Homo sapiens: one gene and its partner. The protein of the gene in region 2 interacts with the protein of the main gene of each other region in a pairwise test. Each region holds a gene or a part of one and is shown on either strand. Other genes may lie near its edges.

Region 1 (3,751 bases), on a different chromosome or scaffold from region 2:
ATCAATTTTTAAAATTAATTTTAGGATCAGAAGCTTGACTTCTCTTCCCTTAGTCCAGTACTGCTTTGACTTTTGCTCGTAAAGGCTAACACTCTTTCAAGGAGGAAGACAATAAGAAAAAGTTTACACATTGCAGATTTGTGAGCTCTACCTGTGAGATCAATATGCCACCTTATACAGATGGGCACACACTACCCAGGGGGTGGAGATTTCACTGACAGTTGCTTTGTACTTGGGGCTCAAAAAATAAATGTTTACATGCAATGGGATATTATTCAGCCATAGAATGGAACAAAGTACTGATACTGCCTAATGTTGTTAAAGGTTGAATTGTGTCCCCGCAAAATACATACTGTGAAGTCCTGACCCCTAGTAACCCAGAATGTGACCTTATTTGGAGATAGGGTCTTTACAGAAGTAATCATGTTACAATGAGGTCATTAGGGTAGGCCCTTATCCAAAATGCCTGGTGTCCTTATAATAAAGGGAAACTTAGACAGGGACACAGGCAGGCATAGAGGAAGATGATGTGGAGAGAAAAATGGCCATCTATAAAGCCAAGGGTTGGTCAGGCACAGTGGCTCACGCCTGCAATCCCAGCACTTTGGGAGGCTGAGGTGGGCAGATCACAAGGTCAGGAGATAGAGACCATCCTGGCGATCACGGTGAATCCCCACCTCTACTGAAAATACAAAAAAATTAGCCAGGTGTGGTGGCGGGTGCCTGTGGTCCAGCTACTTGGAAGTCTGAGGCAGGAGAATGGCGTGAACCCAGGAGGCGGAGCTTGCAGTGAGCAGAGATCACACCACTGCTCTCTAGTCTGGATGACAGAGCGAGACCCCATCTCAAAAAAAAAAAAAAAAAAAAAAAAGCCAAGGGTTGAGGTCCGAACCGGATCCTTCCCTCACCCCACAGCCTCCAGAAGGAACCAAGCCTGCTGACACTTTGATTTCAAACTTCTAGCCTCCAGAATTGTGAGACAGTAAATTTCTGTTTGTTTGTTTGTTTTGAGACAGGGTATCATTCTGTCGCCCAGACTGGAGTGCAGTGGTGCGATCTTGGCTCACCACAACCTCCGCCTACCAGGCTCAAGTGATTCTCCTGCCTCAGCCTCCCAAGCAGCTGGGATTACAGGCGCACGCCGCTACGACCCGACTAATTTTTATATTTTTAGTAGAGACGGGGTTTCACCATGTTGGCCAGGCTGGTCTTGAACTCCTGACCTCAAATGATCCACCCACCTCAGCCTCCCAAAGTGCTGGGATTACAGGCATGAGCCACTTGCTCCTGGCCCCAAATTTCTGTTGTTGAAGCCACCCAGTTTGTGGCACTTTGTTACAGCAGCCCTAGTCAACTCATGCAACAGGTGCAGGGGTTCCTTCTGGAGCGATGGAAGTGTTTTTGGATAGAGGTGGTTTTGCACAACGTTGAGAATGCACTAGATGCCACTGATTGTTCCCTTTAACCTGGTTGATTTTATGTTATGTGAATTTCACCTCAATTTAAACAAAAGCACCGATCCTGCTTCAGAAGCAGACACCTCTAAACCAAAGTACTGCCCAGGACCTCGGTAAGGGGCTTGGCAGAAGAGCTATTTCCACCACTGGACCATCTTCAGGCACTCCAACCCACTCACGTATGAAAAACATATGGGATCAAGGTCAGTGCATGACACAGAAAAGCCATTAGCCAGACGCCAGTCAGCCCTGGCTGGGCTCAGCTCGAGTGCTTCCTGCTCAGTGGAGATGGGAATGGCCGAGGCAGCTGATTCACCAACAGCCGGTGGAGGGCTGGGCGGCCGGCCTCATTGATCATTCCAGTGGCTGCTGAATGAGCCGGCGCGGGGCAGACACTGGCATTAGCTCACTGAGACGGCGTCAGTGTGGGGGTGACCTGCAGACGCTGGGGGTGGCGGGACACTCGAGCCCAGACACCGAGATGGTCAAGGGCTCTGCAGCCGTCACTTCTTCCCCTCCTAAGGAAATCAGGCCCACTTTGCTGGTCGTGGCCATGGGAACTGGGCCATTCCAGGAGCAGTGGTTTTGTTGCTGTTTTTAAATCTCGTATTGACTCTCAGACACAAGCAGCAGTTTCTCGTTTGGGGGAGGGAGAAGAGACAGAGAGTCCTTGAACCACGTGTTTCAAAATCTCCAGAGACACTCCTAAAAATGCTGAATCTCAGGTTGTTCCAGACCTTCTCCATTCAGACTCTGGGGAGAAAAGAGTGGGAATCTTTCAGAAATGCACATAAATGCTGAGAACCGCTGCAGCAGAACGTGGTGAAGGCAGCCATCAGCACTTGCTCAGCTGTAAATGTTCTGTCTTTAGGACGCTTGTTTCTTTTTTCCTCCTTTATACTGATTTCTTACAAAGCTCCATCCCTAACTTAGTGAAAATACCATATCCCTGACCACCAGCTCCAAACAAACTTGTATGTTGAATAAAGGCCACAACATCCAAAGACATAGAAAGATTCTAAAGCCTCCAAAGCCTGAGAATTGATCGTAGAATTGATGATGATGATACAGCATCACTTTATTGATTGCCCATTAGTGCAAGGCACTGATTAAGTGCTTTATATTTCTTTTGCCTTTCTTTTAAAAGAGACAGGGTCTGGCTGGGCGCAGCGGCTCATGCCTGTAATTCCAGCACTTTGGGAGGCCGAGGCAGGCGGATCACCTGAGGTCAGGGGTTCAAGACCAGCCTGGCCAACATGGCAAAACCCCGTCTCTACTAAAAATACAAAAATTAGCCGGATGTGGTGGTGCACGCCTGTAATCCCAGCTAATCGGGAGGCAGAGACAGGAGAATCACTTGAACCCAGGAAGTGGAGGTTGCAGTGAGCCGACATCACGCCACTGCACTCCAGCCTGGGCTACAGAGGGAGCCTTTGTCTCAAAAAAACAAAAACAAAAACAAACTAAGTAAATAAAATAAATAATTTAAAAAATTAAAAGCAGCAGGGTCTTACTCTGTCACCCAGGCTAGAGTTCAGTGGCATGATCATGGCTCACCTCAGCCTCGACTTCCTGGGCTCAAGCAATCCTCCTGCCTCAGCCCCTTGAGTAGCTGGGACTACAGAAGTGTGCCACCACACCCAGTTAATTTTTATTTTTTTACTTTTGTACAGACATGGTCTCATTATGTTAGTCTCCAACTCCTGGCCTTAAGCAATTCTCCCACTTTGGCCTCCTAAAGTGCTGGGATTACAGGCGTGAGCCACTGCACCCAGCCTATATTCCTTTTTTTTGTTTTTGAGATGGAGTCTCGCTCTGTCTCCCAGGCTGGAGTGCAGTGGCGAGATATCAGCTCACTGCAACCTCCACCTCCTGGGTTTAAGAAATTCTCTGCTCAGCCTCCTCAGTAGCTGAGGTTACAGGCGCCCACCACCACACCCAGCTAATTTTTGTATTTTTAGTAGAGACGGGGTTTCGCCATGTTGGCCAGGCTGGTCTCGAACTCCTGACCTCATGATCCATCCGCCTCGGCCTCCCAAAGTGCTGGGATTACAGGCATGAGCCATTACACCCGGCCGCCTATGTTCATTCTAATCTCTCAATGATTCAGACAAGTGAGTATTGACAGACGAGGAAGCTGAGTTGCAGACAGGTTGAAGACTGTATGTTACAGAGTTTCTAGATGTCAGAATTGGGATTCTGACCCCCCACAGGCCTGTACTCATTCTAGTCCACACAACTTCAGCCCTTATTTCTTTACCAAGTTAAATGCTTTAAAAATCTAGGCCTCGTGA
Region 2 (3,751 bases):
GGCAATCTTTGAGGACTGTTCGCCTGACTCATCACCAGGCTGCCACTCAGTAAAAGCCAAGGCACAGTCACCTTTAACAAAATGTACAGATTGCAGGCCAGATTTATGGGACCTCCTGCAGATTGAGGCAATGGATTAAGTGTACTTTATACTTCTCAGGTACATATTAGCAACCAGACGCTCCCATATTCCCTCTGTGTCTCTCCTGGAAAACCACTGATAAAGAACAATAATAAAATTTATTCTAAGCCATGACTGGCTTTTTCTGTCATGTTCACATCCACTTCTTTGTCATCTATTCACTTGGGGCTGCTTCTGAATTAGGGAAGCTGCCTGAACCCACACTCCGATGGCTCTTCAGAACCACCAGCTCAGCTCTGCAGTCCCAGAAGTGCCTCTTAAGTTATCCTGTTCTTTCCTTTGAGATCCTAACTTCCAGCTGGTCAACAACATACCACATTGCTCCCTGTGTTGGAGTGTATGTACGTGTGTGTGTGTTTGTGTATGTGCTAGTTTGCTGGCTAATTGCAAGCTTCATTTTTCTCTCCTGAGAAAGGCAAGATATCTGAGAATGAACACCATTTGTTTTTTTAAGTAATCCTTAGAGCTGAAAGTTGGGAGGCTGGTCGTTTCTGAATGTAGGTCAAATGCTAAACAAGCCGCAACTTCTCTGCAGAGTGTGAGAGTCTTCCTGGTCTGGAAGGATCCCTGAAGATTCTGCTGGATTCTCTGAGACGAGAAAGAGCTTGACTGTGTGTTGTCCTTCCCAGTTCCAGATCAGAGCTGCCTTCCAGCAGGACCTTGGGGATGCCCCACTGTTCTCTGGCATAGAGCTTGATGTCTGCTCTTTCAGCTCACTGGGGTGACACACAGCTCTATTGTTGCCACCGCTACTGGGCCTTTACCAGGCTCCAGATTTTGGCAACGGGAATAATGCAGATGAAAGGAAAAAAGGAGAGGCATAGGGAGCCCTGGGAACAGAAAGGAGAAGGAAGATGATGAGACAAGGGAAGAAGAAATGGAAGTTTTAATGAAGGAAGATGAAAAGGTAATAGGCCAAGGTATGGACATACCAGTTTTATCTATGAAAACTGGGCTGAGTGACACATTTTCATTCCATTTTGTAGAACCCTATAGTGCATTTCCAAGCTCTTTACTGTGACCATGTGAAATACATGAAATTGATGAGTTAGTGTAACCTGTGTTACAAATCCAGCAGTAAAGATATGTGTATGAGATGTTCATGAGATTTCAAAATCACTGTACCTACCTCCTGGGTGAGGCAAACATTTTGAGTCAGTTGAGAGGGATCGCTCATTCACTCTTGCAGCGGGAAGGCAGAGAAGTTTCAGTTTATCTTCTGTTCTGTCTCAATCAGTTGGGTAGAATGAGTGTTTAGCGTGAGGATGAATCAGGTCCCCTCTTGCCAGCAGAGGGGTAAGGTGGTGTGTGGTGGATTGGAGAGGATGTCCTGAGGGCCAGACACCAGCCAGGGCGGGGTTGGGTGACCCGTGGGGTTTATTCTGTGATGTCACAACGGCAGTCAGGGGTCTCCCTGTTGCTCCCTCAGCCTCCTCCCATAAGGATTGGGGGGGGTCATGCTGGGTACCTACCAGTGGCTGGATGTCTTCTGAGGTCGTCCAGATCAGTGCTTATCTTATTGTGCATAAGATTCACCTGGGGAACTTAGTCAAGTGCAGATCCTGACTTAGTCAAGTGCAGAGTCTGGGATGGCTCTCACGTGAGTCCAGCCAGACCACACTGAGTTGTGAGACTCTAGACCAGTGCTGTCAAAGCAAAATGCAATGTGGGCAGCATATGTCATTTAAAATTTTCTGGTAGCCACATTAAAAAAAGTAAATTGGACACACATACTGTGATACAGCAATCATATGTTATACAATACTATGTTTAAAATGTAGCCCTCCCCACACAATAAAGTTGGGTTTAATGAAAAATATTTTATACTACTTTCATTTTAAAATTAAAATTTAGTGAATTCAAATTACATAAAATTAGAAATTCAGTTGCTCAGTTGCACTATCCATATCATAAGGGCTCCACAGCCACACATGGCAAGTAGCTACTGTATTGGATGGCACAACTCAAGGCCATTCCCTGAAAAGGTAACAATGTACAGAAATTACCATTCTAAAGGGCTAGTATCTGGAAACCCAGCAAACATTCACTAACATCATTTTAATGAATACATAATTAGTGTTTGGGGACTGTTAATATGGAGGCATAACTCTCGGAGACTGGAAGAGGGCCTCATCCAGGATTCCAGCTAACAGTCTGGATGGGGCCCTCTGCCCTGTGAAACCTGTCACACTCAGTCCTCCTCTGAGCTTTTGCCAGGGTTCCCCTCACTGGGATCCCTTCCTTCTCCTTGCTGCCCTGCCTAAATCTTACACAACCTCAGGGCACATGATTCCAGTCTCACTACCTTGTGGCTCTAGCCCTCCTTACTCCCCATTTCCTCTTTGCTCATACAGCATGCCTGCTTTGCTTTTGGTGTGTTAGTCTGTTTCTCTCGTGAAATTCTAAGCTGCTTGAGGACAGAATCTGGTTTTTTACTTCTATCGTGCTTAATATAGTGCCAAGGGCATAGTAGCTGCTCAAGAAATATTTATTATTTTATTTAATGACCTAAACTACCTAAGGAAGTATCTAAGAGAGAACATCGGATCTCGAAGTGCCAATAACTTCCCCAATGGAACAACATGCCTTATTTTTGGCACATCTTAAATTGATCAAGATGTCCGTTATAAGTTAATTTATAAATTTAATACAAATAACCATGAGTATTTTAAAAGACCAACACAAGTTGATATTAAAGTTTATATGGGAAAAAAATACACAAGACTAGCTAGGAAAACCCTGAAAAGGAAGAGCTCTGAGGTGGTGCTAGCCCTAATTGATATAAAGCATACTACAAAGCCTCTATGATTAAAACAACATGGCACATGTATACATATGTAACAAACCCGCACGTTGTGCACATGTACGCTAGAACTTAAAGTATATTAAAAAAAACAAAAAAACCAAAAAAAAACAATGTGGTACTGGTGCATGACTAGACAAACAGGCCAATGGAAGAGAACAGAAAGTCTAGAGATAAACACAGCTATGTATAGACTTCCAGTATAGGACAAAGGTGATATCTGTAATCACTGGGGCACAGATGATTTTTTTAAGAAATGTTGTTGGGATAAACTAGATAGCCATTTAGAAAAATATAAATTATATTTATTTAAAAATCATATACAAGAATAAACTCTAGATGGACTAGAGATCTGAATTTTAAAAATGAGATTATGGCCGGATGCTTAATCCCAGCACGTCAGGAGGCCGAGGCAGGAGGATAACTTGAGCCCAGGAGTTCAAGACCAGCCTGGGCAACACAGTGAAACCTTATTGCTACGAAAAGTACAAAAATTAGCTGGGCGAGGTTGTGAGCGCTTGTAGTCCCAGCTACTTGGGAGACCGAGGTGGGAGGATTGCTTGAGCCCGGGAAGTTGAGGCTGCAGTGAGCCATGATCCTGCCACTGAACTCCAGCCTGGGCGATGCTGGGTGACAGCGCAAGACTGCCTCAAAAAAAGAAAAAAAAAAAAAAAAGAGAGAGAGAGAGAGAGAGACATATGAATGACCCTAAATATATGAAAAAATGTTCAACTTCACATATAGTAAACATAATGCAATTTAAAACTAGAATGAAATATCACTTCTCATCCACCAGACTGACAAAAT

The links.
Region 1: the proteins of GSG1 (region 2) and PITPNC1 interact in binary tests that used the Homo sapiens proteins (3 or more experiments, as listed by UniProt).

Annotation. Positions count from the first base shown.
Region 1 is NC_000017.11:67,527,206-67,530,956, reverse strand, and holds part of PITPNC1 (cytoplasmic phosphatidylinositol transfer protein 1), read right to left. Parts: intron 1-3,751.
Region 2 is NC_000012.12:13,102,195-13,105,945, forward strand, and holds the start of GSG1 (germ cell-specific gene 1 protein), read right to left. Parts: upstream 1,474-3,751; 5' UTR 1,319-1,473; coding exon 1,271-1,318; intron 1,157-1,270; exon of another isoform or gene 1,074-1,156; intron 972-1,073; coding exon of another isoform or gene 891-971; exon of another isoform or gene 1-890. UniProt on the Homo sapiens protein: May cause the redistribution of PAPOLB from the cytosol to the endoplasmic reticulum.